Homo sapiens: one gene and its partners. The protein of the gene in region 3 interacts with the protein of the main gene of each other region in a biochemical or structural test. Each region holds a gene or a part of one and is shown on either strand. Other genes may lie near its edges.

What was found.
Region 1: the proteins of STAM (region 3) and CLTC form a complex in vitro, tested with the Homo sapiens proteins (one study listed by BioGRID).
Region 2: the proteins of STAM (region 3) and ARRB1 form a complex in vitro, tested with the Homo sapiens proteins (2 studies listed by BioGRID).
Region 4: the proteins of STAM (region 3) and USP8 form a complex in vitro, tested with the Homo sapiens proteins (2 studies listed by BioGRID).

Annotation. Positions count from the first base shown.
Region 1 is NC_000017.11:59,678,701-59,685,978, reverse strand, and holds part of CLTC (clathrin heavy chain 1), read right to left. Parts: intron 6,583-7,278; coding exon 6,460-6,582; intron 5,068-6,459; coding exon 4,922-5,067; intron 4,685-4,921; coding exon 4,501-4,684; intron 4,333-4,500; coding exon 4,140-4,332; intron 3,709-4,139; coding exon 3,551-3,708; intron 3,351-3,550; coding exon 3,186-3,350; intron 3,073-3,185; coding exon 2,965-3,072; intron 2,885-2,964; coding exon 2,717-2,884; intron 2,593-2,716; coding exon 2,443-2,592; intron 2,355-2,442; coding exon 2,223-2,354; intron 2,105-2,222; coding exon 1,994-2,104; intron 924-1,993; coding exon 753-923; intron 393-752; coding exon 171-392; intron 1-170. UniProt on the Homo sapiens protein: Clathrin is the major protein of the polyhedral coat of coated pits and vesicles. Two different adapter protein complexes link the clathrin lattice either to the plasma membrane or to the trans-Golgi network.
Region 2 is NC_000011.10:75,278,518-75,285,795, forward strand, and holds part of ARRB1 (beta-arrestin-1), read right to left. Parts: intron 5,763-7,278; coding exon 5,718-5,762; intron 4,967-5,717; coding exon 4,770-4,966; intron 3,505-4,769; coding exon 3,445-3,504; intron 2,626-3,444; coding exon 2,558-2,625; intron 228-2,557; coding exon 92-227; intron 1-91. UniProt on the Homo sapiens protein: Functions in regulating agonist-mediated G-protein coupled receptor (GPCR) signaling by mediating both receptor desensitization and resensitization processes.
Region 3 is NC_000010.11:17,639,972-17,647,367, reverse strand, and holds the start of STAM (signal transducing adapter molecule 1), read right to left. Parts: upstream 3,218-7,396; 5' UTR 3,029-3,217; coding exon 2,989-3,028; intron 1-2,988. UniProt on the Homo sapiens protein: Involved in intracellular signal transduction mediated by cytokines and growth factors. Upon IL-2 and GM-CSL stimulation, it plays a role in signaling leading to DNA synthesis and MYC induction. May also play a role in T-cell development.
Region 4 is NC_000015.10:50,419,475-50,427,596, forward strand, and holds the start of USP8 (ubiquitin carboxyl-terminal hydrolase 8), read left to right. Parts: upstream 1-4,930; 5' UTR 4,931-5,040; exon of another isoform or gene 5,041-5,180; intron 5,181-8,122. UniProt on the Homo sapiens protein: Hydrolase that can remove conjugated ubiquitin from proteins and therefore plays an important regulatory role at the level of protein turnover by preventing degradation. Converts both 'Lys-48' an 'Lys-63'-linked ubiquitin chains.

The DNA of each region.
Region 1 (7,278 bases), on a different chromosome or scaffold from region 3:
CAGTGTCATTTGTCAGCTATTAAAAAAAAATTTCAAAAGAACAGGAATATTTTATGATCGACTAAATGACTTACTTCTACTAAAGAAAAAAGCATTTAAAAAAATTAATGTGCATGTAGAATTTTACATGCAAGGAAACTAGTTCTGAATACACTTAGAAGAGTCATTACCTTTGTCAAGTACTCCTTCATGACCTGGATGAAATAGGGCATGGCAAAATCCATGATATTGTGCCTCCATGCAGTTTCTAGGACGACATCTGGCCTTAAAAGATCGTAACAGGTAAACAGACAAGCTCCAAAGCACTCTCTTTTTTCTTCCTGCAAAAACCACTGCAGGAGTTCTTCAGCCAATTCAGTATCTTTAGATTCAGAAGCATACTGCATTGCATCCTATTCAAAGAAATAGTGAAAGTCAAAAACATTAGACCCCACATACTGAACTAGTAAACCAAGAAAAACAATGGAAACTTTCCAATATAAATCTGGTTTTGCAAGGGGAAAAAAGCCTCCTAGTTGTATCATTTAAATTAAAATTTTCAAAGAAGAGATAAGCTAAAAGCTTTTTTTTCCCCAGACAAGTTTGACCTTAACATAAGAGAGCCCCTAGAATCAAGAAATCCATTAACTTAAATTGCCTTAAAGTCAGCTCTCATATTCACAAAACCAATACTTTTATTTATAGATTATAATCACTTGTAACACCATTTTAGGCCTGGTTTAAAACAGCCCCTGCCCCGCAACTTTATCAACCTTGTAAAGGCTGTCTTTCTTGCACAGCTCTACACTCTGTTTCCAGCGATTGTTGCCTTTGAAGAGATAAGCAGCAATTCTCCTGAACTCAATGAGTTCATGTTTTTCCAAACGCTGAGCAAGCGAGATATTGTCAAAGTTGTCATAAGCATCTATTGATGTTCGCAGAGCCTTAAAAAAAAAAAGCCATCCAAATGCCAGATCAGTATTTTGTTTAACATTATATTCCGTTCTCAATCAATGAGCCCCTTAGATGGTAACATGTAATATGACACCTAGATTCAAGCATCAAAAGGTATGATTTTTCATTTTACCTAAAGATACCATTTTCTCCAAGATTTTCACTATCAAGGACTAACATATGGCTATGAAATGGACAATATTTCTAATTTGGAGGGCAAGATTTTTTTCTTTTTTTTTGAGATGGAGTCTCCCTCTGTTGCCCAGGCTGGAGTGCAGTGGTGATGCAATCTGGGCTCACTGCAACCTGCCTCTAGGGTTCAAGCGATTCTCCGGCCTCAGCCTCCCGAGTAGCTGCTACTACAGGCACGTGCCACCACAACCGGCTAATTTTTTTGGTATTTTAGTAGAGACGGGGTTTCATTGTGTTAGCCAGGATGGTCTCGATCTCCTGACCTCGTGATCCGCCTGCCTTGGCCTCCCAAAGTGCTGGGATTACAGGCGTGAGTCACCACGCCTGGCATGGAGGGCAAGATTCTGTGCTCTAGAGAAACTTCTGATAAAACTCAGCATGGCAGCAGTACAGATCTGCATGCGCTGAGCCTCAAAGAAAATGAAGAGAGAGAAAAAAAGGCAAGTAGCTTAAGCTTAACTCTACTTCACTTTTGCTTGTGAAATCCTTCATAAGAGAAAGTTTATACAAACACTAATAAAACAGTAGGCAAGAAAAATGGTGAATAAATATAGTTAATACCAAATAAATTTTATGAATTAGTTAAGTGGTCAAAGACATTTTTGACTCTACCTACAATCTAGATGTTAGAGATAAAGTAATCATATCATTTTTTTCAAAAGCAGTATCTTATACAAGATCTGAGCAAAATTCTGAAAACTTGGCACTTAATTAGAAGATTTATCAATCCTGAAATCTTACTAAATTTAGATCCTAGGTATGCAAGCACCTACTGTTTACAATCCTAAAGGATAATGGCTTTTTTAAAAAATGGGAAAACATAACTTTATGAGTCTTGAGATTATGTGCAAGAATCAAAAGGTTTTACCTGATAATCTTCTTCTGTAATAAAAAGATTGTTCAATGATTCATTCACAGATTTGTTGTTATGGTTCTGAACTGAACGCAAATACGGTTTCACCAGTGGTAGCTGTTTAACCTTTAAAATAAAGAGTTTGTTACAAATATAGCACATTATTGAAGTCCCAGGGACAAAAGTTATCGAAGTATGTCCTAATTCCTTGCTATGAAGCTTTGGTTTAAAATTATTACTTTACCTTGCTGAAATAATTGACTGCACGAGTGTGATCCAACCGTGGAGACAGCACCATCAGCAAATCATTTAACAACAGAGGCTTGAATTCTAAGTAGAACTGTATTGCTCTGTAGTATAGTTCCACATTGGCAACCTACAATGGGAAAATCCATACATAAGTCAGTTACTTCCTAATGAGCTTTCTCCTTCTGAATCCTTTATCTTCTGAAGAAAGTACACACCTTGGTAATGATATCTTTGAATTGCCCTTCTTTCCAGGCATCAGTTGGATGATTCATCATGGTAATTATGGCATTATCATATTCTTCATACTTGTCATACAAAAACACCAGTTCTGCCCAAAGATGAGCTTGTTCTGCAGCTCTTAGCACCTGCATAAGAAAGACTTAATTGCTTTAGATATGAGTCTAGCTAACAGCCTTAAAAAGAATAAGATATTTTGAAGCATTAGTTTTAACTACACAGTTGCTTCACTGTGTTACAATGACTGGTTACCTTGGGAATATTCACTCTAGACCAGAACAGCTCCAGGTGCTCCCTCATTTTCTGAGGCTTAAATTTAGAGTATAGAATAGCTAATTCAGTAAACATTCCCATGTGAGCTCGCTCAAGTCCCAGTGCTGCTTCCAACATGGTGATCAGCTCTTCAAAATAGCCACGATCCTGAACAAGAGAAATGTGCAGTTAAAGATAAGAATATCTATGGTAAAAGATCTCAGGTCATATAAAAGTCTCGTTAATACCTGATAGTAGTTGATAAGTTCTTCTAATTCATCTGCATGTACAACAATATGAAGTCCACACATCTGAGCAAGACGGAATTCTTTCCCATCTACACAGGCGAAGCAGACCTAGAATAAACATTTCCTTTCTGTGAACTCAAATGTAAAACATGGCTAGTTATTTAAACTAATGTTTAAATAGCGTTTCTTTAATTCTTCACTCAAACTTGGGTTTAGATTACCTCTTTCCATGTTCGAGTACTGTTAGCTTTCCTAGCCCCATCAACAGCTGCCTGATATTCACCCAGGTGAACCAGGGTAGATGCCAAACGTCCAAAATTGGAAACATTATTGTACAACAACTTAGCAGCATCATACATTTTTTCATCATAACAACGGTCACCAACCTGGAAAAAAAAAGGTAACCCACATTCAGCAAGATATTAGTGTGAGCTTAATCCTCTTTTCAAATTGATATCTTCACAATGAGAAAGAATTTGTTTTCCTATAGATTTTTCCTTGGAATTCTTCAGTTATGATGTTTTGATCCTACCAAGCTAATCAAGTAGCCCAACTAGTTTTTCTTAAATCTGAAAAGGAAACCCACTTGTTGGATATGAGCATTATTTGGTCCATTGATAAATTCTTCTAACTCTGCAAGGCGGTTTGTTTTAGCCAGTGCGAATATCAGTTCTGTCTCCACATAGGACTCTCGAGCCTTCTTACGGGCCATCTGCAAGTACTTCACCAGTTCTTCCCAGTTTCCTAAGTATAGAAAAAGAAAAAATATATCCAAACACTAACATCCTAGTTTATCTTTCACCCAAGTAAATGAAAATTGCATTCATTTCCTTTTCAAGGAAACATGGATAATGACAAATGTAAACCGTGCAATATTTCACTTCTGTATTATCACGGACCAAATGAATAGATGAATTCTTTTTCCTTAAAGTTTTAAGATTAGAGCACTATCAGGATTTTATGAGACTTCAAAAACAGAAGATTCATCTTCCCCACTTGTAAGTTTTGTGAACTTACAAATTCACAAAATACAGCCTCTTTTTATCTGGACTAAGATGGAGCACTAAAAGAAACCATGCAGTATCCAACTCTTCTAAAATTCAGAATAGACAGATATCTTAATGCTTAGCTTAATCATTTTATGAGGTTTCAATACATAAGGTAAGAAGTCATACCACTAGTATTGGCAGCCTGAACAACTTCCATGTAGGAGGAAGGATCATCTGCTTTGATATAAGAATCAATGGCTTCTTTCACCATTCCTTTCTGCAACTGGGCTTTTGCAAGTTGACTCCAGACCGCAGGTTCATTGCAACGTTCAGCAAACTCATATGCCCGATCCAAGTTTCCAATATGCTCAATTAAGACCTAAGTATCCAAGTTTGAAATTAGGGTTAGAGTAAAATCAATCCTACCCAAAGCAATTACATTTAAGCTGTTAGTATTTTATTGCTGCTCTATTGCCGTAGCAACCAATTAGGCCCACCCTCATAGCACAGTGTTTAGTAATTCAACTTAGGTAATCTGAAGATTTACCTGAACTGCTGAAGTATTGACATCAAATTTCCGGAAAATGGCAAATGCTTCTTCAAACAGCTCATTGCTGATGGCGATATTGGCAATATCTGGGGCATCATAATTATCCAGGCGGTTAATATACTCCATAACACGTGTACGGTCAGCCTTAATTGCAGTGAGGATAAGGAGGTTTTGCAGATTCCTTTAAGAAAAAAAAGAATATTTTAAATGCAATATTTTAAGTTTATCCGACATAAAAAATAACCACTGTGACTAACGGAGAGGTTTTTGTCTCAAGAGGTAGGGTAGGGGGGAGGATATTAGAAGAGTGAGAATTCAGGCAACTTTCTCTGATCTTTTTGTTCCTTCCCAAAACTGATGGGCCATAATTTATTAAAGACTGACTATAAATAGCCAATGGATCCCTCTGAAAGCATACCTGTGTTCACTGAATACAGAGTTATCAAGGACAATTTTCTCCAGCAGTTCAATGAGTTCATTAGGAAGGTCTGCAGTCATGAAAGCCTTTACAGTTACTGACACTTCTTCAGGGTCCTGAGTCTCAGACAAAGCTGTTTGTACAACCTACAGAGGATATATGGGACATAAGTACTGAGAATCAAGTTGGTTTTAAAAAAGCGTAAGTTGGCCTCTCATTAGAAAACTTGAAATAGGCAGAAAAGAATGAAGTAGGAAAAAGACCTTTAAATTTACATAGAGAGGTCTTTCTACACAAATCTATACAATATGTATAATTGTGTTGAAAAATTACTCTAATTATATAATTTCTATCTTTTCCCTGATTAAAACATTATCCAGGCTAGCAATCATCATTATCACTTTAATGGCTACACATAATTCAAAATTCAGCTACACAGATGTGGAATTAAAATATCGGTAATTCGTCTGGTTTTGGCTATTTGCTTGGTTTTCTAGATGCTGCAATGATTTCCAACCATCGCCCCCACCCCCACAACCTTCCCCTAGGAAGCTTTGTAACTACTTGGGAATGTTGCTTAGAAGTGCTTCCTAGGAAAGGAATGAAATATTAATAGCCTTCAACCTATTCGTTTCCAAAATATTTTATTTATACTTATCTCAGGAGAATTTAAGACTCATTATAACAACTCTTCTATTTTTAGAACTTTTAAAATATGTTGTCTATTTTATTTAGGTATAAAACCCCATCTCATTTGCAGTTCTATACTTCTTATTAGTAAGATATAACACTGATGCACTTGGTCTTTTGTATTTTCTCTTATCCTTATATTTTTCTGACTTATTATCTTGAAGTTTCCAATCAATTTAGCCACTTAAGTGTTAATAATAGCAATCTTTAATGTTTAGTTTGTTATTTTCCTTTTAAACTATGATGAACCAAGAGAGTTTTATATAATTAAGTCAGGTCTTTTGGGATGTATTTTCTTTTTCTTTTTTCTTTTTGTTTTTTTGAGACAGTCTTGCTCTTATCACCCAGGCTGGAGTGCAATGGCGTGATCTCGGCTTACTGCAACCTCCACCTCCCGGGTTCAAGCGATTTTCCTGCCGAGTAGCTGGGATTACATGCACCTGGCTAATTTTTGTATTTTTAGTAGAGATGGGGTTTTACTACGTTGGCCAGGCTGGTCTCGAACTCCTGACTTCAGGTGATCCACCCACCTCGGCCTCCCAAAGTGCTGGAATTACAGGCGTGAGCCACCGCACATGGCTTATTTTTCTTAATGTATGTTATATACATATTTATACTTATATAAATGTACATTCATTTGTATATAATGTATATAATCAATTTACATTCATTATATACAAATGAATGTAAATTGAATATATATAAATTTTAATTTTCTTCTACTTTGTATTGCTTTCTCTCATAGTTATATATGATCCATTTGAGTACATGATGAGGGAAAGGATTGTATTCATAGTTAAAAATGTATAATTTTTACTGACAGCCATAAACACATTTGCCAATGTTACCTGGTCAATTAGGGGTCTCCTGTAAGGATTGCTTTCCAGCAGCACGCTGCCCCACAATTCTGGATCCTTTCGACGTACCAGGTAGCGAGAAAGACTTTTGAAGAGGGAATTCTCATTGCAAACCTAAAGAAGATATGATAGATTAATTTCAAGGTAAAAAGTAAAGGACTTTTTATAGCATTTTAGAGGGTATTTCCTATCTTTTAAACTATGTTTATTGATAATCTTACTGATATTGGATCTAGTTTTGGACTTTGATTCATGTACCAGTAATATACTGTTTTAATTATATAGACTTTGTAATACACAGTTCAACATCTGGTAGGACTAGTCCACTTTTACAGTTTTCAGTGTTTTACTAGCTGTTCTTGTGTGTTTATTTTTCCATGCGTATATGCACATGTATGTACATAAATGAGCATATGTATGTACATAAATGTAACTAAGCCCTGACCACTGAAAGATCTTAGAAGCAAATACACTAAAGCTCAGATCTTGACTTCTAATATTTTCAGAAAGTAGGAGTCTTGCTCTGTTGTCAAGGTTGGAGAGTGCAGTGTTGCGATCATAGCTCACTGCAACATTGACCTCCTGGGCTCAAGTGATCCTCCTGCCTCAGCTTTCTGGGTAGCTTGAAACCAAGTGCATGGCACCTCCCCCCAGCTAATCATGTAATTTTTTGTAGAGACGGGGGGCTCGCTATGTTGCCCAGGCTGGTTTCAAACTCCTGGGCTCAAGTGATCCTCCTGCCTCGGCCTCCCAAAGTGCTGGGATTCTAGGAGTGAGCCACTCACCTGGCCCAGATCTTGGTTTCTAATG
Region 2 (7,278 bases), on a different chromosome or scaffold from region 3:
AGGCATCCTTGCAGGCCAGGAGAGAGCTGGGATCTGAGGCCCAGGCCCTGGTGGAGCAGCCCCCACCCCCTGCCAAGTCCGAGCCTCCTACCTCCTTATCCAGAGAGGCTTCTAGGTGCAAGGGCTTGTCCGACATGAGGAACTGCCTGGTGGTCTCGGCTGTGGGCTGGGGGCCAGGCCTCTCTGGGGCATACTGAACCTTCCGGATGACCAGACGCACAGAATTCCTAATGGAGATGGGCGGAGTGAAAGAGGACCAGGGTCACCTGCCTTCATCCCCTCTCCTTGCGAGCCTCACATCATTCTCCTGCTCAAGAGACTGGCATGGCTCTCCATCACCTTAGAATCCAGCCAAACTGCAGAGATCAGCATAGGGGTCTGTCACCATCTGGCTCCATTCCATCCTCCCCTGTTCTGTCCCAGAAGTGCCCTGTGGCTGCACTTCATTTGGTCCTGGTACCCAGCAGGATGCTGAAACAGGGACTACATTTTTCACCTCCTGCTTCCCTATGTCACCAAATAGGTAACATTGTCACTTCCTGACTCCCTATGTCACCATACACAAATAGTGTCCCTCTGTCATCTATTTTGGTGACATAGGACACTATTTGTGTAAGTTCTTTAAGGACAGAAATTTGTGTCTAAGGTGTTCACAGCTGTACTCTCAGCACCTATGACTGTGCCTGCCATATAATAAACAACTGCCAGATATCTATTATGTAAAACTATGCAGAGGGGACAGCGGTCTCAAGAAGAAATGGGGCTTGGGGAGGCGTTGGGGTTCAGGGAGGAGGCGTGGATTCAGTCAGGGGGATGCAAGCCAGTGAAGGGGACAAGCCCAGGGAGGGGAGAAGGCCCATGGATGAGACTGGCTCCATGAAGATTACAGGGGATCAGGGAGCAAATGAGGATCTGGTGAGGGAGGGGGACTTGGTGAGGCCGTCTCTGTGGCATGCTGGGAATGCCGGCATCTCCGTTGCTCAGATAAGCTGCCTCCATTGCCTGTAACCAGGGAGCCAGGGTCAAACTCCCAGCTCTCCTCTTACTAACTATGTGGCCCTGGGTACATTAACCTCTCTCTGCCTCTGTTCCCTAATCTGTAAAGGGTGATGACAGAAGGACCTACCTCTTTTTCTCCTTTTTAAATTTTTATTAATTTATTTATTTTGAGATGGAGTCTCACTCTGTTGCCCAGGCTGGAGTGCAGTGGCGCAATCTCAGCTCACTACAACCTCTGCCTCCCAGCTTCAAGCAATTCTCCTGCCTCGGCCTTCTGAGTAGCTGGGGTTACAGGCATATGCCACCACACCTGCCTAATTTTTGTATTTTCAATAGAGATGGGGTTTCACCATGTTGGCCAGGCTGGTCTGGAACTCCTGGCCTCAAGTAATATGCCTGCCTTCGGCCTTCCAGAGCTCTGGGATTACAGGTGTGAGCCACCACGCCCAGCAAGGACGTACTTCTTAGAGCTGCTGTGAGGATTAAATTAGTTCATACAGCCCAGCACTGTAAATGGTGTCTGGCACCTAATCAGCCCTTGATAAATGATAGCTTCTATATCATTATTATTAGTAACTCCTTGGTGTGGATTTTAAATGTCCCATTGGTGGTAGGGTGAGAGGGGTGGCTCTCGATGTCACCTCCTCTTTCTTGTGCTTACCAAGCCTCCTCCCACATCCCACAGCACCCTTCCTCTTCCCTGGTCTCAGGTCTTAAGAGGAAAAGGGAGACAGAGAAGCAAGGGAGAAAAGTCCCATCTCCTCACACACAGCTGCCAGGGCTGCAGATGCAAATGCATGCAATACACCCTATAGCCACCAGGTGGCAAACTCAGCCCACGCCCTAAAAAGGCTGCTGTGCCCTCAGCCAACCTCCTCTGGGACCAGTGCCTCTGGATGCAGGCACATCAGCGTCGAGGGCCCACCAGCTATTCCAGGAGGCAGACAGAGCACAGCCCGACCCAGGAGGGGCAGGCATGAGACATCCGGGCCAGCTGTTTCTGGCTGCCAGCCTGGGCTCTCTGTCTGCCCGGGCTGTTCTTCTCCAGAGAACGCTTCCCATCTCTTAGATGTGGGCCGACCTCCCTGTCACTCTCCCCTGGATGGGTTCACTATCTCCACTTCCTCCTCACTTAGAAGCTGCCATTGACACACACTCCACTCCTGCTGAACGCCTCCCAGGAGGAAAACTGGAAAATGAGAATGGTCAGGAAACAGCCTGCTCACTGTTTAACACAATCTGAATTTAGGGTTTTTCCAAAACAAATTAAAAAGACATGCAGTCTGGAGGGGATGAAATGAGAGGCAGGGAGATGAGGGAGGAAGCTGCCACAATGGTGCAAAGGAGAAGATGCTGCAGCCTGAACCCAGGCAGTCGAAGCCACCTCCCCAAGGAAGCCCTCCGTGACCTCCCAGCTTCCAGAGTGCCCTTCCAAGGCTGGAATGTGCGCCCCTCCTCACACACTTCCAGGTATTGTTACTTATCTCCTCTTGGACTTTGCCCATCCTGTCTCCCTCCCTCACCCAGCAGGCGGCCCACACCCTGGCATCCTACTCACCGCTTGTGGATCTTCTCCTCCAAATTCTCCGCGCAGAAGGCTTTGACTTCATAGTCCACACCGCAAGCCTGTGGGGAAGGGGTCACTGACCACAGGGCCTTGGAGAAGCAGGGTCCCCAGTACACAGCCAGCCCACCTCTCATTTTACAAACGAGGACACTGGACAGGAACACCAAGCTCCCACAGCCCAGCCTTCCTTGGTCTGGAAGAAGCGGGGGAACGCCCTTGTGCTCAGCCCCAATGCTGTGCTGCCTCCTCCATCTGACATGGGACATCTCGAACCACCCAAACGGGGCTCTGCTCTTTGGATTCCTGCCTCAGTCTGGGTGGCCGTCCTCATCCAGGCAGCTGCCCAGAAATAGCAACAGGCACCTGAGCAGACTGGGGGCGCCTACTACTGTGTGCACACCCGGCCCTGGGTGGCTTATCCGGTATTCCTCTAACAAGACAAGGAGGCACGTGCTGTTATCTCCATCTTGCAGATGAGGAAGCTGGGCTCAAAGCTCTGGAGCTAGTGGTGTCACTTCTCTCCAACCCTCAGTTTCCCCATCTGTGAAATGGGGATGATCGCACTTTGATTCCAGGTTGCCAGGGGTTACATGAGGCCAGGTGTAGGTCCTCAGAACACTTTGGTCCTGTTGCAGCCAACGCCACCCAGGAGAGCCTCCAGACCCATCACTGAATGGGAGAGTGAGGCTGACCCCGTACCTGCTGCCCTGTCTGAAGAGAGACTGGTTGTCCAAGGTGGGACCAGCTTAGCCTAGACACAAAGACTGTTCAACAGGGAGAGTGGTCCTGTGTGTCCAGCACCTCCCAGGGAGAAAGCCAGGGACCTGGGGACATGAGACTCCTGGAGCCAGAGAGATGGTCCCCTTGGGGTGACCTACCTTCCCCGTGTCTTCGGGCCCCGGCTGCAGTGTCACAGAACATGGAAGGTTTGGAGGGATCTGTCAAGAAGAGGACAGAACGAGCCACCTGTCACATCCACCACTGTCCTGTCTCATGTATTGCAGCCCAGACACTCCCATACACCCATCAGACCAAGGGCCCCAGGGGACAGGCCATGTCTATCCCATCAGACCATGCCAAGCCATGCCCCATCTAAAACTCTTTAGATAAAGAGCTTTCTTTATCTAAAGGGTTTGGCCCAGCCCAGTCCTCGCAGCAATGGTTTAAATAGATCTTTCTATGATGTCTACTGTGGTTGGCAGAATAATGTTCCCCAAAGATGTCCACACCCTAATCGCCCAAACCTGGGACCTTAATGACAAAAGTGACTTTGCAGATCCAATTAAGGCCTTGAGATGGGGACCGTATCCTGGATGATTTTGGTGGGCCTAGTATAATCACAAGAGTCCTTAGAAGTGGAAGCAGGGGGCAGAAATGTCTGAGCCACAGTGATGGGATGTACAAAAGACTCAACGGCCACTGCTGGCTTTGACAATGGAGGAAGGCACTGTGAGCCAAGGAAAGCAATGCTGGAAAAGGTGGACGCTCCCCGAGGGCCTCCAGAGGAGCCAGCCCTGCCACGCCTCCATGGTAGCCCACTGAGACCTGTTTTGGGACTTCTGACCTCCAGAGCTGTAAGCTCATACATCTGTGTTGTTTTAATTGCTGCCGAGTTTGTGGCAATCTGTTTCAGCAGCCATAGGGAGCTAACATGTCTACGTAGAAAAGGTGACTCCATGACCCTCTCCACTCTCTCAGCCTCCAAGAAAGGGAGAGACCACACTGAATCTCAGAATCAGAGAGCCTAAGAAACTTGAGATTTTGAAATCCAGCATCTTAAAGTCTCTGATTTGAAAGGTGGTGGGGCAGACAGATCACCTACTTGCCATCCCTCTCTTGCGAGCTGGGTTGCTGCCGGGCAAGTGGGGAGCTGATCTGAGCGGGAAACCCCTTGCAGTGATGCAGGGTCCAGAAAGGGCTCTTTCTTTCTCTGAAGCCCCTTAGCACCCCCTTTCTCCCACCAATGACCTGGCCTCAGAAGGGTCTGAGGAGTAGCCCAAAGGTACAGGTGACAAACCCCAGCAGGGGCTGGAGAAGAGACACTTACCAGGTAACACAGGTGACAGTGCCCCAGGTCCCAGCATACACTGGGAAACTGGGTGGCAGGGAGCAGCTGACCCTCACCGCCCTCTTATGCCCACCCCAGAGGGCTTCCTAGAGGTGGCATTTCTGGAATGGGGCCCCAGGGATGGCAGTTCCTGACCTCAAAGGTGAAAGGGTAAGCGTGCTCGCCCAGCTTCTTGATGAGGCGTTCCTGCAGCCGCGTCAGGGGCTTCTTGTCCTCGGGGGCCGGTGGGAACGACTGTACGTTGGCCACAAACAGGTCCTTGCGAAAGGTCAGGCCCAGGACATCCAGGTCCTCCCGGCCATAGCGGAAGGCGCAGGTCAGCGTCACATAGACTGTGGGGAGCGAGGAGCACTGAGGAGGGGCCTGGGAGAGCAGCAAGCGAGCCCCCCAGAGTGCCGGCAGCAGCCCTGGGACGGGCCCCACTGGAGGCCCCAAGCCTGTCCCAAGCTCTGTGGGGATGGCTGCACTGTCTCCACCAGGAGGGCTGGTAGTGAGTACCGGAAGGATGCCATGGCCTGGCCCCTGGGAGGAGGAGGGGGCTGCCTGCTGAGCCAGCTCTGTCCTTCCCCCTCCCACCTCTCCCCAGGGCATATGTGGAGGGGTATGGAAACGGTCTGACAGGCTTGGCGGGGGCTGGAGTAGTCTGGCAGGCCTGGGGTGGGGGTAGGGGACCTGGGGAAGGAGCAGGGAGTTGTGGGGGCAGGGCAAGTGCTGGGTGGTATCTGGACGGCAAGCGTCTTGTCACAGCTCAGTCTGCACTCTTGTCTTCCTGCGCATTGATACTGCCCCGGTATCAATGTTCTGTTCTGTTAAAGAAGAACCTACTCCTACCCTGCTGGCATCCCCAGCCTTGCCACAGTCATGACATATTGATGTGAAAGTGCTCAGGGCATGGGGAAACCTTCTCCCAAAGTAAGCTTGGGGCAGGGCCGTCCCAGGCTGGAGGAGGCAACGGCATCTGTAGAGGTATTTGTTGGGGCTTTCAGGGGAACCAGTGGGGATGGGCAGGGAGTTCCTATGCTAGAGGTCCGGGGGGAAGAGGAGGCGGCCCTTGACAGGCTGGGGATGGGGGCCACAGCCTACCTCTCCGCTCTTTGAGATACTCAGGATCCACCAGGACCACACCATCTGGGGAAAGGACAGAGAGTAAGCGGCCTCTCCCAACCTGGTCTCCCAAACCTCTGTGCCCCAAACACCAGCCCAAGCCCAGATCCAACCATCTGTTCATCTAAAATCATCCTGAGAAAAATGGAAAGGCGGGCACCTAGAGGGTGGCACTGCCCACCTCCACCACGCTCCACCCTTCCCCCATCCCAGGCCAGTATAACAGACCCAGCTGGTGACTTTAGGCAGGTTAGAGACCATTTCTGTTTCTTCATCTGCTAGTAAGAATAATAACCTAGGTCCGAAACTCCTAGAACCAGGTATTCTTTGGAATTTAGAAATTGCGAAGTATAGAGAGGCAAAATGGGCCGGGCGTGGTGGGTCATGCACATAATCCCAACACTTTGGGAGGCTGAGGTGGGCGGATCACTTGAGGCCAAGAGTTCAAGACCAGCCTGGCCAACATGGTGAAACATCAACTCTACTATAAATACAAAAATAGCTGGGCATGGTGGCGGGCCCCTGTAGTTCCAGCTACTCGGGAGACTGAAGCAAGAGAATCACCTGAACCTGGGAGGCAGAGGCTGCAGTGAGCTGAGATCATCCCACTGCACTCCAGCCTGGGCAACAGAGCGAGACTCTGTCTCAAAATAAAATAAAATAAAATAAAATAGGCAAAATGGTACATGTTCCATATATTCTGTAATGACCTCTGCAAGATCTGTACCTTATTATTAAAGCCATTAATACCTCTGTAGGAAAACACAAATATTCTCACCAAGAGGCTAAATAAGGCATAAATAGCCTCGCATCAGTTTGGGTCAGGTTTGCCAATAAATGAATTCTGCATTAAACTTGGAAGCAATGTTAGGTTTTCAGAGCTTGGGCTTGGCACATGTGGATTGGGGGTTGTGATCTGCAGTGCCTCCCTCATGGGGCTCCCGTGACGACTGAATGGGTACATGTGTGAATGTGCATATGTGTACAGCGCTTAGACAGTGCCAAGCACTCGAGAGCACTCTGCAGATTGTGGAAGGCGCCTCAGTGCCCTGAGGCCTGCCCTTGGGGGCAGAGTCCAGCTGGACACAAAGGACATCTCTGCTCAGCACCCCAGGAGGCCAGAAACACTGGCTCAGGGTCACCCCCTTGGCTGACATCCCCTGTCTATCTTTGGCCAAACCTTTCTTTCCTCTCTCTCTCCCCCTACCCTCTAACCCATTGTCACTTCACTGCTGGTGGAAGAGGAGGGCCAGGATGGATCATCAATGTCCTGTTGGGCAGGCCAGTGGGCTTGGACTTGTGTGCAGGTTTGGTGGGGAACCGGTAAGCATAGGGAGGGTGTGATCAGATCAAGCCAAATGGCAGCGTCACTATGGGAGAAGAATCTCTCACAGTGAGTCCCTGATCAGCTCTGCACAGTGCCCCAGAGTTCTCGGGGATACCAGGGCTCACAAGGGGCCTGGCACAAAGGGGGTGCTCTGTGAACACCTGCTGAACAGCTCTCAGGGTGCCTGCGTGTGTTGGGGGCTGGTTTCCTGCC
Region 3 (7,396 bases):
TAAAATACTGTATATCAAAGAGGAATGCTTAAGAGATCAAAAAAGAAATGGACTAGAAAGTGACCATTGGATTTGGCAAGGTGGAAGTCACTAGAGACTTTGAAATACAAACTTGATGAAATAAGTTATCTTTACGTTTCTTCTAAATTCAGCTCTTGAATTATAATGTCCAAAATGAGATTCATTTATTCCATAAATGTTTACTGAAAGTTCTTCAGCATGCCAAAAACTGGTCTACAGCTAGGGATACGGCAGTGAAAAAATCAAACAAAAATCCCTGTCCTCACAGAGCTCACATTCTAGTAACATCTTTCGGTGTTTCTTCCAAGGGAAAAGCTATCACCAGCATTGTGTCTCTTTATAAAAAATGTTATATTATATAAATCAGTCAGTGAATTTCTGATTCAGCCTCAGATTAAGACTGAAGACAATTAATTTTGAAGATGTGCAAATGTATACGAGTGTTAAGTGATAAATAACTGTATCAAATGAGTTACTTTAATGTTATGACATATTCATTGGTAGATATGGTGAAAGAAAAAATTGTTAAGTGTATTCTATACACTGTATTCTATATGTTATACTATTAAAAAATAATATGAGTCTACTGGACTCTGTGCAAGGCTTATGTACTGGGAATCTCTGAGGGGTCTTCTTAGATAAACCTTTTGTAATATTTCAATACAAGGATTGTGAGAAGAGAATTGGTCCAATACCAAAACCTGAGCAACTTTAAAAAGTAAGCTTTTCTGGAGCAAAACAATGTTGCTACACTGAAGAAGTATAATGTCTGGCAGGCTCAACTGACACATTCTCAACTCAACAAACATTATTAAACACCTCCTATGTAGCAACCTCTCATTAAGGAGTATAAAACTATCTTGAATGCTAAATAATTCGGTAAAGGCAAAAATGCTAAAATAAGTTAGAGGATTTTGTAAGAAGGTGGAAATTAGAGTGGACTAGTGCAGCGGTTCTCAACTGGGAGGTATTTTGTCCTTCCAGGGGGCATTTAGCAATGTCCTGAGACTTCTAAAATCATGAGTGGGGGCTGGGTGTCACCGGCATCTAGTGGATAAAGGCCAGGGATAAGGCTGAACACCCTACATTGCACAGGACAAACTCCTATGACAAAGATATTTACCTGGCCCAAACCGTCAATAACGTTGCTACTGAGAAACCCTTTGCTACAGTAATCAGGAAATGACTCAGGTGTAACAAGTTGGATTCTGAGTTGGCCTTAACACACAAGGATATGTTGAAAGATAAAAGAAAGCATAAGCGTAGGACAAAAGCATAAAGGCAAGAAGGTGCCTGTGTTTGAACTGGGTGGTACAGCTACTAGGAACGGGTTTGACATTAAGAAATTTACCTGAATCCAATGCAAATATGTGTTCACAAAGTCAGTAGAATATAAAGGTGATTGGGTAGTTGCTAGCTAAATTATACAGGACCAAGAAAACTAGACAAAGGTGCTGTAAACAGAAGAAGCAAGTATTAAGAAGCTGTTTTAAGTATTTCCCCTAGAGATTCATGTAGTGAGATGTAAAACTGCTTGAGAACAGCAACTAGGCCTTGCTCATCACTGTATCTCTTATGTCACTGAGCTGCTGTGTCCTGTAGTGTGTGCTAACTGCTTATTAAATTAAATGCAATTTTCCAATTCATTAAGTATAATCGGTGATCTCCAAGGTTCTGTCCACTGCTAAGATTCAGGACACTCATTTAAGGTGGAACAAAAAAGGTAGCATCTAGTAAGTGCCAACCACATAAAGGTACTGTAGCAGGCCCTCTAGACATATTATTTAACTGCAGAATGGAATGATGTGTTTTCCCCTCTTTAAAGACAAGAACACTGGAACTCAAAGAATTTAACTTGCCTATGATTTCACCGTGAGCTGAGAAGTGGCAGAGGTAAGGAGTGAACTTTTTTCTACTCTTATATAAACTTCCAAGTTTCAGTGACATGCTCTAAGGAAGAGTTTAAAAAGAAAAATTCAACATCCACCTTTCATAATTAAAATACACAAAGACAAGTAAATTCATAAGGTTGTCCTTATTCACAGTAATGATTACATTCTGCCATAAGGGATTTGGAAATGGTATTTGGCTTGCTTTCATTCCACACTTGTGTGCCAAGGTAGTTCCTACGTGCGTTCAAATTAAACCAAAATTCTCTCCCCGGAAACTCAAATTCCCATAATTATTATCTTCAAGTCAGAAAAAAATAAAATAAAATAAAATTAAAAACCAAAAGCAAACCTATTGAATTGACATCATCAGTACCTAATACCAGTGATTCAGAAAACAACAAAAATGTAGCATTTCAAACTCTTTCCAGATTCAACAACTTCTTCCACACTTCTTTACACCTTTTAAAGTGCAGAGACCTAGCCTAAGAGAGACATCCCAAAGGCTCAGGTCCTCAATTCGGTTTCAGTCGTTGCCAAGTATTTCATCTTCATCGCTCCTAACATGTTTGAGAGTCTACCCTTAACCAGAGCTCCCTCCTTCAGTTACCGTTACAAAAGATTTTAAAATCCTCTAAGGAACCTTACCTAAAACATTCTGCCAGTTCCAGACGCTCAACATTTATTTGTCTAGGCAAGCACTTTTGGTACAGGGTTTACAATCCTAATCTAGCCAACATACGCCTTAAGCCCTTCGCTGTTCTTCCAGAAGCACAGTCCCTGCACCAGATGCTACACCAGCTGCTCCTCCCAGGCCCTTTACACCAACCCATTCAGCAGTTCTTTGGCAACCTACAGTCCTAGCTCAAGGCCCATTTCACAGGATGAGTCCCATTTCTTTCAAAGAGGATGCGCCAAGCCCTCAACCTCCTCCCAGCTCTGAAGGAGGGAGCCTCAGGAAAGGGGAAGAGCGAGCTCTTCCTTGGCCCTGGCCCGAGGGTCCTGAATGCAGGCAGGGGCTGGCAGAGTGAGCGTGCAGTCCGGTGAGGAATGGGCAGGGAGAGGCAAAAACACTTACCAACATCCTGATCGAAGGGATTGGTGGCAAAAAGAGGCATCTCCGCTGCGTGCCGAGGTGTCCCCGGGGACTCCCTCTCGACAGCACGGGAGTCAGAGCTCGACGTAGGATGGAAGACTCCTCAGGCAAAAAGAGCAACAGAGACCGACTCTACAGGGTCCGCGACAGCTCCTCCTCTCACCCAACCCCACCAACCGCGGCAGCAGCTGCGGCGGCGGCAACAGCAAGGAGCCGAGGAAGCCCCCGCGCGGAGCTTGTCGGGAATCTGGGCGACCTTGGCGCTGCCTGTCTCAAAGCTGCCCCGAGCCTGCCCCATCGGTAAAGGCTGAACAGGGAGTCCCCTCTGCCTGACTCCTCTTTTAATTAGTCACACATAAGAGTGGAATTAGTTCTTGTGTTTTCTGCTTTTCCCTTGGCTAGGAGTCTCCGTAGGACGGGGTCCTTCAGGCGTGCTGAAGCCTACTAACAACCCCAGGAGTGACTGGGAGAGCCAGGAGAAAGAAAGCAGGTTGAGTTCGGGTCGAGCTGTGCGCCTTTTTTCCTCTCGCTCTCTCGGTTATCATAACCTTGTATTCCCTCTGGAAGGAAATGGAAATTCCTTTGGATCATCTTCTAGGTAAACAGTTTAATTAGCTGCGTGAGGTGACAAACTTGCTCGGATGAAGTCATGGGAGCTGAACGAATTGGCCTGAATCCCAAGAGGGGAGTGTTCAGGGCGCGCGTGTCCCTCGGAGAGGCTGAGGTAACGCTGGCTCCTTCCCGGGAGTCCCTGAACGCCCGGCTTTGGAATCTGCAGACAGCTCTTCTAGCAGGGCGTTGGCACCTACTGACTAACCGTGCAATCACTCAGCAGCTGTGATGGTTGGTGACATGTCTTTCACAGCCCAAGATAGCCTCCCTAGACTGAGCAAAAAAAAGAAAACAGAAAAAAACTGGAGCTAAAAGTTGATCAGTGAGTGATTCCTAGCAACCCAAAATGTTGGTTTATTTATTTTACTTATAAGTTTAGTTAACCAATAAAAATTATTCTCTGTGTGATGGAGAAGTTTTAAGGAGCATCTACTAGAGATGTTGCGTCCCACTTGGAACAAACTTAGTAAGCACATCTTGTACGTAAATGGAAATTATCCCGCAAATTACGGCATCTCCAAATGTAGCGTGGAAACTAATATTGACATGTCAACACAGGATTAATACATAGTAATCAAAGAGTGCTTAAAAATTCATTAAAAATGAAGTCCCACCTCTAAAAGTGAAATGTGCAAATTAAAGTAGCAGTTAGATAATGTTTTGTCATTTAGGTAAAAATTACAAAGAATCGGCCGGGCGCGGTGGCTCACGCCTGTAATCCCAGCACTCTGGGAGGCCGAGGCCGGCAGATCACCTGAGGTCAGGAGTTCAAGACCAGCCTGGCCATGGTGAAACCCCGTCTCTACTAAAAGTACAAAAAATTAGCCGGGCGTGGTGGTGCGCGCTTGTAATCCCAGCTATTCGGGAGGCTGAGGCTGGGAATCGTTTGAACCCGGGAGCGAAACTCCGTCTCAAAAAAAGAAAAAAATTGCAAAGAATCAGGGATGTGAGGAGTCAGACACTCACATACTGTTGGATGAAGTGTAAATACTGTATAATCTTCCTAAGGGAAATATTTGGAAGCATGTAAAAAAATTTTTAAAACCTTAGGACCCAGCAATTCCATTTCGGCAAATTAATCCTAAAGACATTCTTTTAAAACATGAACAAAGGTATACATGGCAACATTGTCTAAAGGATCAAAGCATTGCCAGCCATTAAATGTCCCACATTGAGTGATTGGACAAATTGCTTCACCTCTTGGTGTCTCAGTTTCCTCATGTGTAAGAAACAGGAATAATAGGGTTGTGAGGATCAAATGAATTAGTACAAGCAAAACGCTTATTACAGTGCCTGGCATAGAGTAAGCACTAAATAAGTGTAACTGATCACTGTAATTTACACTGGTCAGTTAAATCATAGTACATAAGATGTGAAAACTACACAGCCATTTAAGGTGCATAATACAGATTCATATTTACATAGACATCTGAATACACAAGTTTTCAGAAGGAAGTTACAAACCTTATAAAATTACAAATGCCCACAATTTTAAAAATCTGAAAGGAAATACATGAGAATATTATGACATGATTGTCTCTGAGTGGCAAGATTCTAGACAATGTTTTTGTTCTTTGTGCATTTTATTATTCAAAATATTTTAATGATGAGCGTGTATTCCTTTCAAAAGCAGAAAAAATGTTAAAATACAACAATGTCAAAAATGGTATGTTGGTACCACCAGTTTCTTAATGTTTTGAAGGGCCAATACCAAAAGCGTGCTTGTGTTTCATTATGACAAGTATAGAATTATTCGGAAATATCACGACTGATACGGAAGTCAGAACATTCCCTCTCAAAAATGTGCTTTGATTGCTGGGCTGACAGAATTAGGTGACAACTTGTTTACCTTAAGATCCTGAGCAGTGTCTTGGGCCATTATCATAAGTGCCTGAGCCAGATATTGGTGGCTCAGACTGGGTGTATCAGAGCCAGATATTGATGAAAATGCATTTGTACATGTTCTGTACTCCGGACTGAATTACTCTGTTGCCAGCAATAAGCCAGGGCACAAACTGTTCAAGCCTTGATTATCAATATGTGTGCACTGGGAGTAATACATACTAGTATTGAGAGCAGTATCCGTGCATTCTGACCTAGAATGACTTTAGCTGTGGGGGCAGGGGGGTCTCGATGATTAATGTGCTGTATAAATAATAAACATTTTTTAAATATAAAATTTTTAATATTTAACTTAAAAGACAAACATAAAAAGTGAAATGCTTTGTATTTTGTGGTTAACGTCCCTTATTATCCCTTTAAAATACTGAAATTCTATGAGTTTCACTTTTAGTATTACCACAGTTTTTAAAACGTTTTGAAGACTACATATCAATGGCATATTAAAATGTTTCTGTAATGTTGTATGTTTAATAAATTCTGTGGTTGTTTGTTAAATGTTATATCCCTTTATTCTCAGTTTGATTTTGAAAATTCATCTACATTAAAAACAAAAATACTGGCCAAGTGTGGTGGCTCATGCCTGTAATCCTAGCACTTTGGGAGGCTGAGGCAGGTGGATCATCTGAGGTCAGGAGTTTGAGACCAGCCTGGCCAACATGGCGAAACTCGGTCTCTACCAAAAATACAAAAACTTAGCTGGGCGTGGTGGTGGGCAGCTGTAATCCCAGCTACTCAGGAGGATGAGGCAGGAGAATCGCTTGAACCTGGGGTATGGAGGTTGCAGTGAGCCGAGATCGGGCCACTTCACTCCAGCCTGGGCGACAGAGAGAGACTCTGTCTCAAAAAACAAAAAAAACAAACAAAAAAACAAAACAAAAAACAAAAAACTGGTGTGCAAATAGAGTTACTACACGAAAAAGTCTATAATTTTCAAATTCAGGAAAAAGAATATCCTAGGAAGGTTTTTAACAGTTTAATAATTCCAGCCCAAGTAGGAATGATTACTATTTCTCAGTCTTTCCTCTTCCTCTGCATTGTCACTACTTTAGTTTATACCCTCATCTCTTAGGCAAGTTACTACATTCACCTCCTGCTGTCTTTTCTCCTTTCCTACAGCTGTGGACTGAATTGTATCCTCAAAAATACAAATATTGAAGCCCTTATGCCCAATGTGATGGTATTTGGAGACAGAATCTTTGGGAGATAATTAGAGTTAGATGAGGTCATGAGGCTGCGGCCTTGCTAATGGGATTAGTGCCCTTATAAGAAGGACACTGGATTGCTTGCTGTCTCTCCCTCTCTCTGCCATGTGGGGATGTGGCGAGAAGGCAGCTGTCTGCAGGCCAGTAAGAGAGCCCTCGCCAGAACCCAACCATGCTGGTACCCTGATCTCAGACTTCCAACCTTTAGAACGGCAAGAAAATTAATTTCTGTTGTATAAGTCACTCACTCTGGTATTTTGTTATGGCAGCCTAAGCTAGCTAATACAGCTATTACCTCTAAACCATTCTCTGTCTTACCGCCAGAATGATTTTTCTAATACACAAATCTGATTATATATCATTTCCTTAAAATTCTTATAGGGTTTCTTCAGTTACTCAGTCATTCAGCAAATATGTATTAACTCCCACGTGTGCCAGGTAACATTTTAGATGCTGGAATTATAGGGATAAAAGCTCTGTGAGATTTAGCCTTTTTGGAGTACAGCCTTTGGGGAAGATAGTCATTAAATAAAAAATTAAATTAATTGTATGATTACAAGTGTGCAGAGTAGCCTTACCTTCAGGATTAAACCCCCCTTCTTTAGCATTACCTCCTTAATGAACTGACCTCTCAGTAACTCATCTCTTCGCAGTTTTTTTTCTCCTACCCTCTA
Region 4 (8,122 bases), on a different chromosome or scaffold from region 3:
CCAGGCACAGTGGCTCACACCTGTAATCCCAGCACTTTGGGAGGCCTAGGCAGGAGAATCACTTCAGCCAGGAGTTCAAGACCAGCCTGAATGACAAGGTGAAACCCCATCTCTACAAAAAATACAAAAATTAGTTGGGGATAGTGGTGCATGTGTATAGTCCCAGCTACTAGAGAGGCTGAGGTGGGACGGTCACTTGAGCCTGGGAGATTGAAGCTGCAATGAGCCATGAACATGCCACTGTACTCCAGCTTGGGCAACAGAGCAAGACCCTGTCTCAAAAACAACAATAACAACAACAACAACAAAACCCACAAACAAACAAAAACCACTGTCCTTGCTAGTCCTTTATCCTGTTTTATTTTTCTTCTAACACTTCTAGCACTTAACAACACCTGACATAGTCTACGTGTATTTGCTTATTGTATGTCTCCTCGACTAGAATGTAAGTCAGCTCCGTGTTGAGCAGGAATTTTATATTGTGAATCTAAAACAATGCCTGGCATAGAACATGCATTCAGTAAGTACTTGTTAAATGAATGGAAGATGAACCAGATTTTGGACTACTGCTTATGCTGGATGGCATGTAAATTGAAGCTGTGATCAAATACAGGCCATGCCTCTAAACAGCTGATGACCGCTTAGATTCTAGGTGCCATAGATACTGCTGCCTGGTTTGTTACAATACTTTTTTTTTTTTTTTTTTGCTTTTACTCTTTACTATTATTCATTACTGGATGGTGGGTGAGGGGAAAAATACAGAATACATGCCCTAGTCCAGTGCTGTCCATTAGAGCTTTCTTTAATAATGGAAGTAGCCTGTATCTGCTGGTCAATAAGGTAACCAATAGTTACCAGGGGCTGTTGAGCACTTGAAATATGGATATTTTGACTGAACTGAATTTTTAATTTTACAACTAGCTGTGGTTACTAGTTACTGTATTTAGCAGCCATACTCAACAATCCTATAGGTCTATCTTAATTACTTTTATAGGAATGAAGAGTATTATAATTATTTCTCAATTATATATATTTGGTTTTAATTTCTACAGAGGAAGAGGACAACAAAGTTTTGTGAACTATTATTCATATAAGTTTGTAGTTGTTTAAGGAAAAGACTTCACAGAGAACAGGGCAGAGAGTAACACAATATCTGATTTCCAAAAAATTCAATCAAACTTTGATATGGATTTGGTCAAATCATTGTTTAATGGCCTCCTTAACATTATTATTAAACTGATTTATATAATTTGCTTTTTACTAATCAAATACATTGTTTTAAATCTTAATTATTTTTTATTATAAAAGTAATACACATTCAGTGTAACAAGTTCAAATAATCTCTCAGGTGGATAAAATACGGACATCCACCACACTGTACCTACCAAGATGCCCATACCCCAAAGATGATTGCTGTTAAACATTTAGAGTGCCTTTCCTGACTTTTTTGTCTAAGCACCTTTAAAAACCAATACTTTTGGTTTTCAGTGATAGCTCTGAATCCCCTTTAGGCATAGAGTGTGGGAAATTATATTTCTGCAGCAAACTCAGGCTCTGCAACATCAAGTGTGGATTCACTGGAAATTATTTGAAGTAACACTTAGAGATCATAGTAGCCAAAAAATGTTGGGAAATTAAAAAGGGGTTTTTAAAAATTAATTATCGTTATTATTATTTTTTTCAAAGAGACAGGGTCTTCACTCCATCACCCAGGATGGAGTTCAGTGGCGGAATTACAGCTCACTGAAGCCTCAAACTCCTGGGTGCAACCAATCCTCCTGCCTCAGCCTCCCAAGTAGCTTGGACTACAGGCATGCACCAACTGTGCCAGGCTAATTTTTTAATATTTTGTAGGGATAGGGTCTTGCTATGTTGCCCAGGCTGATCTCAAACTCCTGACCTCAAGCAATCCACGCACCTCAGCCTCCCATAGTGCTGGGATTACAGGAGTGAGCTCCCACACCCAGCTGAAAAAGGTTTTTGTGGAGGGAGTATGATCAGGAGAAAAATCATGGAATGTGCTCGAAAGAGATCTAAAGGGCCATGGAAGTCAAAAGGTTGAACTCCATAGAACAAAACATGAAGTATGGAAAGATTCTTTAAAAAACACTTGACTTTGGAACAAAATCCAAATTGTTCCCATGATTTCATTCTTTGACATTATGTTCATTTTGGTTATCTTAGTCTTTTCTCAGAATTCCTCTTTAACAGAGAATTATCTAAAAGCCCCTGGCTAAGTTAATGCTTATGACTATGGTCACAAATGGATGGCTTGGATTTTATTTGTTTTGCAGTGTTTGTAAATTTTTTTATGTATACTGTTGTTGTCAACTAACATAATCCGTATGTATATGGGTTATATATATATATATATATATTCCCCAAATTTAAAAACCAGTTTGGAGATTTTTCCCACACACAGAAAATCAGAAAATTGGCAATACTCTGCCCCATTACCACATGGCAACAATGTAGACAGGCCATGAGTTCTCCACATGGCCCTAATCCCCACCACTCTTAAACAAATCTAATCAGTTTTATGTATATTATATATGTATATTGCTGTGCTTCTCCTTCCTGCCTGACCCTGCAAGACCCCTGTCTCAGTCTCTCTCAACATGTCTGAAGGACTCGAGGGCAGGTGTCAAAGGTGAAGGCCCTCATCTGGATTTAATGTCCTGGACCTTGAAACAGCAGCTAGTGTTTTGAGCTCTAAGCTAACACTTTGGACTTTCTTTTTTTTTTCGAGATGGAGTCTTGCTCTGTCGCCCAGGCTGGAGTGCAGTGGCACCATCTCGGCTCACTGCAAGCTCCACCTCTCGGGTTCACGCCATTCTCCTGCCTCAGCCTCCTGAGTAGCTGGGACTACAGGCGCCCTCCACCACGCCTGGCTAATTTTTTGTATTTTTAGCAGAGATGGGGTTTCACCGTGTTAGCCAGGATGGTCTCGATCTCCTGACCTCGTGATCCGTCCGCCTTGGCCTCCCAAAGTGCTGGGATTACAGGCATGAACCACCGCGCCTGGCCACATTTTGGACTTTCAGTCATGTTTTCTTTCCCCAATGAAATAGAAAAGTTTTATTTCAAAGAGGAAAAGGGTGCAACAGCTGCAACATACATAAAACCTATTTAGTTTTACTTGGGAGTGGGAATCAGGAAACCTGGGTTCTGTTTTTGACTTAGTTTGGATAAAGAAGGGTAGTTAAGCTGTCCTTATGTCTCTTACCAAATGGAGAAAATACTGCTGTAGTTCACAGCAATTTGGGGAGTTTTAGATTCTATGGAAAATGGAAATCCTATTTGTAACTTAGATTTTTTCTTTGGAGAAGGAGTCTCGCTCTGTTGCCCAGGCTGGAGTGCAGTGGCACGATCTCGGCTCACTGCAACCTCCACCTTCCAGGTTCAAGCGATTCACTGACTCAGCCTCCTCAGTAGCTGGGATTACAGGCACGCGCCACCATGCCCAGCTAATGTTTGTATTTTTAGTAGAGACCAGGTTTTGCCATTTTGGCCAGGCTGGTCTCAAACTCCTGACCTCAAGTGATCTGCCCACCTTGGCCTCCCAAAGTGCTGGGATTACAGGCGTGAGCTACCGCTCCCGGTCTAATTTTTAAATTTTTGTTTTGTAGAGATGAGGGTCTCCCTTTGTTGCTCAAGCTGGTCTCTGTCTCTTGGGATCAAGGGATCCTCCTGCCTCAGCCTCCCAAAGTGCTGGGATTACAGGCCTGGGCCACTGCAACCTGGCCTTCATCACAAATTCATTGAACACACTTTCTTTATTTTATCCTTTTTTATTTTTAAAAATTTTTATTTCAGTAGTTTTGGAGGAACAGGTTGCATGGAAAAGTTCTTTAGTGGTCATTTCTGAGATTTTGGTGCACCCATCACCCGAGCAGTGTACACTGTACCATGTGGCACACACTTTCACTTAAAGCATTTACTAGACCTCGCTAGCCAGATTTCCCATCCCTGAGACACCTGGAATGTTCCTGAGGACTTAGTGACTACTGCCTAAAGCTCCACCCAAGTCAATTTTATGTTTACAGGCAACCGGAGCATCCAATCACCTTTCTCTAAGAGAGTACAAAGATCAGCTCGCGAGAAAGTTCAGACGTCTCATTTCGTTTCTATTACACGGGGCCTTCGCCCAACCAGACGGAGTCTTGCTCTGCTGCCCAGGCTGGAGTGCAGTAGCGCGATCTCGGCTCATTGCAACCTTCGCTCCCCGGGTTTAAGCAATTCTCCTGCCTCAGCCACTGGAGTAGCTAGGATTACAGGCGCACGCCACCACGCCAAGCTAATTTTTTGTATTCTTAATAGAGACGGGGGTTTCACCATGTTGGCCAGGCTGGTCTCGAACTCCTGACCTCATCATTTGCCCGCCTCGGCCTCCCAAAGCGCTGGGATTACAGGCGTGAGCCACCGTGCCCAGCCTCGCCGGGGCCTTTTAAGTGACGTTAAAAATTGTACATAAAATATGTTTTAGGATAATACTTGTTTTTCTTTGACCAAAGGCTTGGCTTCAGAGAATGTTTAGCCAGAAATAGAGGGGCGTTAAATCCCCTTTTTTCTAATTTCCAATCTGAGGAGGAAAATAACGTAGTAAAGGGACGCAAGAGCAACCTTGCTTCTTCCACAACAAGGCCCAGGCGCCGCCTTGCAACCCGGAAATGCAGGGTGCAGTGCGGGGGGTAAGGGACCGGCCAACTATGTTGACCCGACTCAGAGAAACCCCGCCCTTGCCGCCACCGCCCACCCATAACGTCCTCCTCGACCCTCCCTCGACCATCCCTCGCCCCGCGGCCCTCACCGAAAAGGGGAGGGCGGTGGAAGAGAGAGGAGTCAAGGGAGCGCACGCGAAGCCCCGCCCCTGCCGTGACGTCTGGAGACGCGACGCGTCGCCTCGCAATGCAAATCGGGAAAAGGGGGTGAGCTGGGCTGGCTTCCGTCCTGGTAGCCAAGGCTAATTCTCCCTCGAGTTCTTGGGAGATGGGCATTTGGCGAGAAGGCTGGCGTTAGTGAAGCGCGCCCGGCGTCACGGTGAGTGCGGGTCTTGGGCCCTAGCACCTGTTCTCTGGGAAGTCGTCCGCTGTGAACGATGAACGCCTTTCCTTCCACCAGCTGCTGGTTACCCCGGAGACAAGCTCTGTCCGCGGAGAGGAGTGGGACAACTCCTAAAGGTAGAATCAGCTTGTGGAGAGGAAAGGCCCAACCTTGAGTCTTTTACGCCATCTACCTAGGATTGCCAAGCGAGTTTCGTGTGTTTTTTTGGTTTTAAAAGGTGGCTTTGACCAATCTTCCGTTCTCTTGGACACTTATACCCGACTTTGACCTCTTTCCTCTTGCTTCCGGTTTTTTTTTTTTTCTGCAATCTGCCTACAATCCCAGGCCTTACTGTAGCTCCTAAAACTGTTTCCCAGTTTCTCTTCTTCCCCAGTCACACTTGATTTTAGTGAAGTTTGAGTTTAAAGACCCTATAAGCTTGTCAGAGTTAAAACTATGACTTCCTCAAATAGAAGATTTTTTTTTTTTCCCCTAAAAAGTGCCTTCCATCCTAGAGTTGTGGGACAAGTTAATTTCACCGCCACTCCACCTTGGAAATTATCAGAATCCTTACTAGCAGTGATGTGCATTATAAAGCTGCAGACCACCCTCCTGGGTTTATTTCTTGCCTCCAGTTCATTCTGTGACCTTGAACAAGTCACTTAATCACTAACAAAAAATTTACCTGACACGGAGGTGTTGCAGAGCCTAAGGAATTTAGTATTTGTTAAGAGACCTGAGGGTTTCAGATGAAAGGGATTTATATCTAAAGGATGTTACCTTTTCTGAATCTGCAAAGCATCGTTAGTTTTGTAAATATCTTGCTGCAGCCATTAAAAATGCCAAGTGGTATTTGTTAAGGAAGTATTCCTGTTTTAGGCTTGCTCTGCTGCGGCTTTGCTATGTAAGCAGATTTTTGCATTTCAGCCGATTCTGTTTAAGATTCGTTGGTGAATGTCATTCATGATGGATTTGGGTAGTTTCTCCTTACAGCATATCCCTGGACTATTAAGCATATCTGGAAGGTGATATCGGTTGTGTTATGTCTTTATCATGTTGATATGGCTGCTTTGAAATATGTATTCCTTTTCTTGTGACACATTGGATGCATCTTTAATATTAGTGAAGACCCTGTAGTAGTTTAAAAAAAAAATACACCTCTCATTAATGAAATTTTGCACATAGACATCTGTTTTTTTAAGAAAACAATGTATAAGAAAAACTAACAAAAATGTTTTAAAGGTGCCTTTTTTAGCATTTCGTTTTTTAATATATTTACTTGGACTTTAATCTTTATGGGCATTTGTTTATTAATGTGGACGTGGCTGGGCGCAGTGGCTCACATCTGTAATCCTAGCACTTTGGGAGGCGGAGGTGGGCGGATCACTGAGGTCAGGAGTTCGAGATCAGCCTGGCCAACATGGCGAAACCCGGTCTCTACTAAAAATACAAAATTAGCTGGGCGTGGTGGTGCACGCCTGTAGTCCCAGCTACTCTGGAGGCTGAGGCAGGAGAATCGCTTGAACCTGGAAAGCGAAGGTTGCAGTGAGCCGAGATTGCGTCATTGCACTCCAGCCTGGGTGACAAGAGCAAAACTCCGTCTCAAAAAATAAAAAATAAAAAGCGTGGACATAATGGAAAATAATCAAAATGACTTTTGGGTAAGACAGTTGGAAAATAAAGCCAGTACATTAAATTTTTTTCATAAGTCTAGCACTATATTACGAACTTTTCTCCATGAAAATGCACTCATATTTATGGAAGTGAAAGGAAAAAAATGTCTTCAGGTATGTGTTGCTAATAAAATTAGATATAATTAAGGAAACATTTAAAAAATACCTTGTTGTTGTCCCAGTTACCTATTGCTGCATAACAAATCACTCCAAAACATAGTGACTTAAAACTGTAATTTAGTATCTCTCCTGTTTCTCTGGCCTGCCTGGACTTAGCTAAGTGGTTTTCACCTAGAGTTTAATGCGTTTGTATTCAGATAAGCAGCTGAGTTTGGAGTCAACCGAGAGCTCAGCTGGTCTGGACATCCAAAATGGCTAATTCACGTGAAGGCGTTTGATGTTGGCTAGGAGTTCAGCTGGAAATGTCAACTGGAATGCCCACACATAGCCTCTTCACGTGACTTGAACAGTATGGCGGCTAGGTTCCGAGAATACATGTTTGAGGAGTCAGGAAGTAGAAGCTGCCAGTCTCCCAAAAAGCCTGAGCCCAGAAATTCGCACAACATTACTTCCAACATACTCTGTTGGTTAGAGCAAAGACCAGCGTACAACCCTCACCTTTGAAAGGAAAAATGTCAAAGAATTTGTGGCCGTGCTTTGCCTACTATAATTTTGATGACAAAGTTGTATTGGACTCTTGTTTGCATTTATATAGCAGATGAAGAATCAGGTACACTTCCAATTTCCAGTTTCTTTCTTTCTTCTTCTTCTTTTTTTTTTTTTGAGATGGAGTCTTGCTCTGTTGTCAGCCTGGAGTGCAGTGTACGATCTCAGCTCACTGCAACCTCTGCCTCCTGGGTTCACGCCATTCTCCTGCCTCAGCCTCCCGAGTAGCATGTCACCAAGCCCAGCTAATTTTTGTATTTTTAGTAGAGATGGGGTTTCACCATGTTGGCCAGGATGATCTTGATCTCTTGACCTGTGATCCACCTGCCTCAACCTCCGAAAGTGCTGGAATTACAGGCGTGAGCCACCGCGCCTGACCCATTTCCAATTTCTTTAACCGTAATACTTTATGTTGTAATGGCATATTACAGTTTTCAAAGCATGTTTTTGTATATTTTTTCACTTGATACCTATGGTCACCCTATAGAAGCAGACAAATAGTTCCTATTTCATTTTGCAGATGAAAGTAAACTGAAGAGTGGTGGTGGTATTGGGAGTGATTTACGGAATTTGTTCAAAGTCATATGATTAATAAATGGAAAGTAAGGCCTGCAACAGTTCCATAATATTAAATTTATTAGTACTGAATGATGAAATATTATATTAAACTTATTTGGAATTCTACATTTATAGCCGTACTAATTTTTTTTTTTTTTTTTTTTTTGAGACGGAGTCTTGCT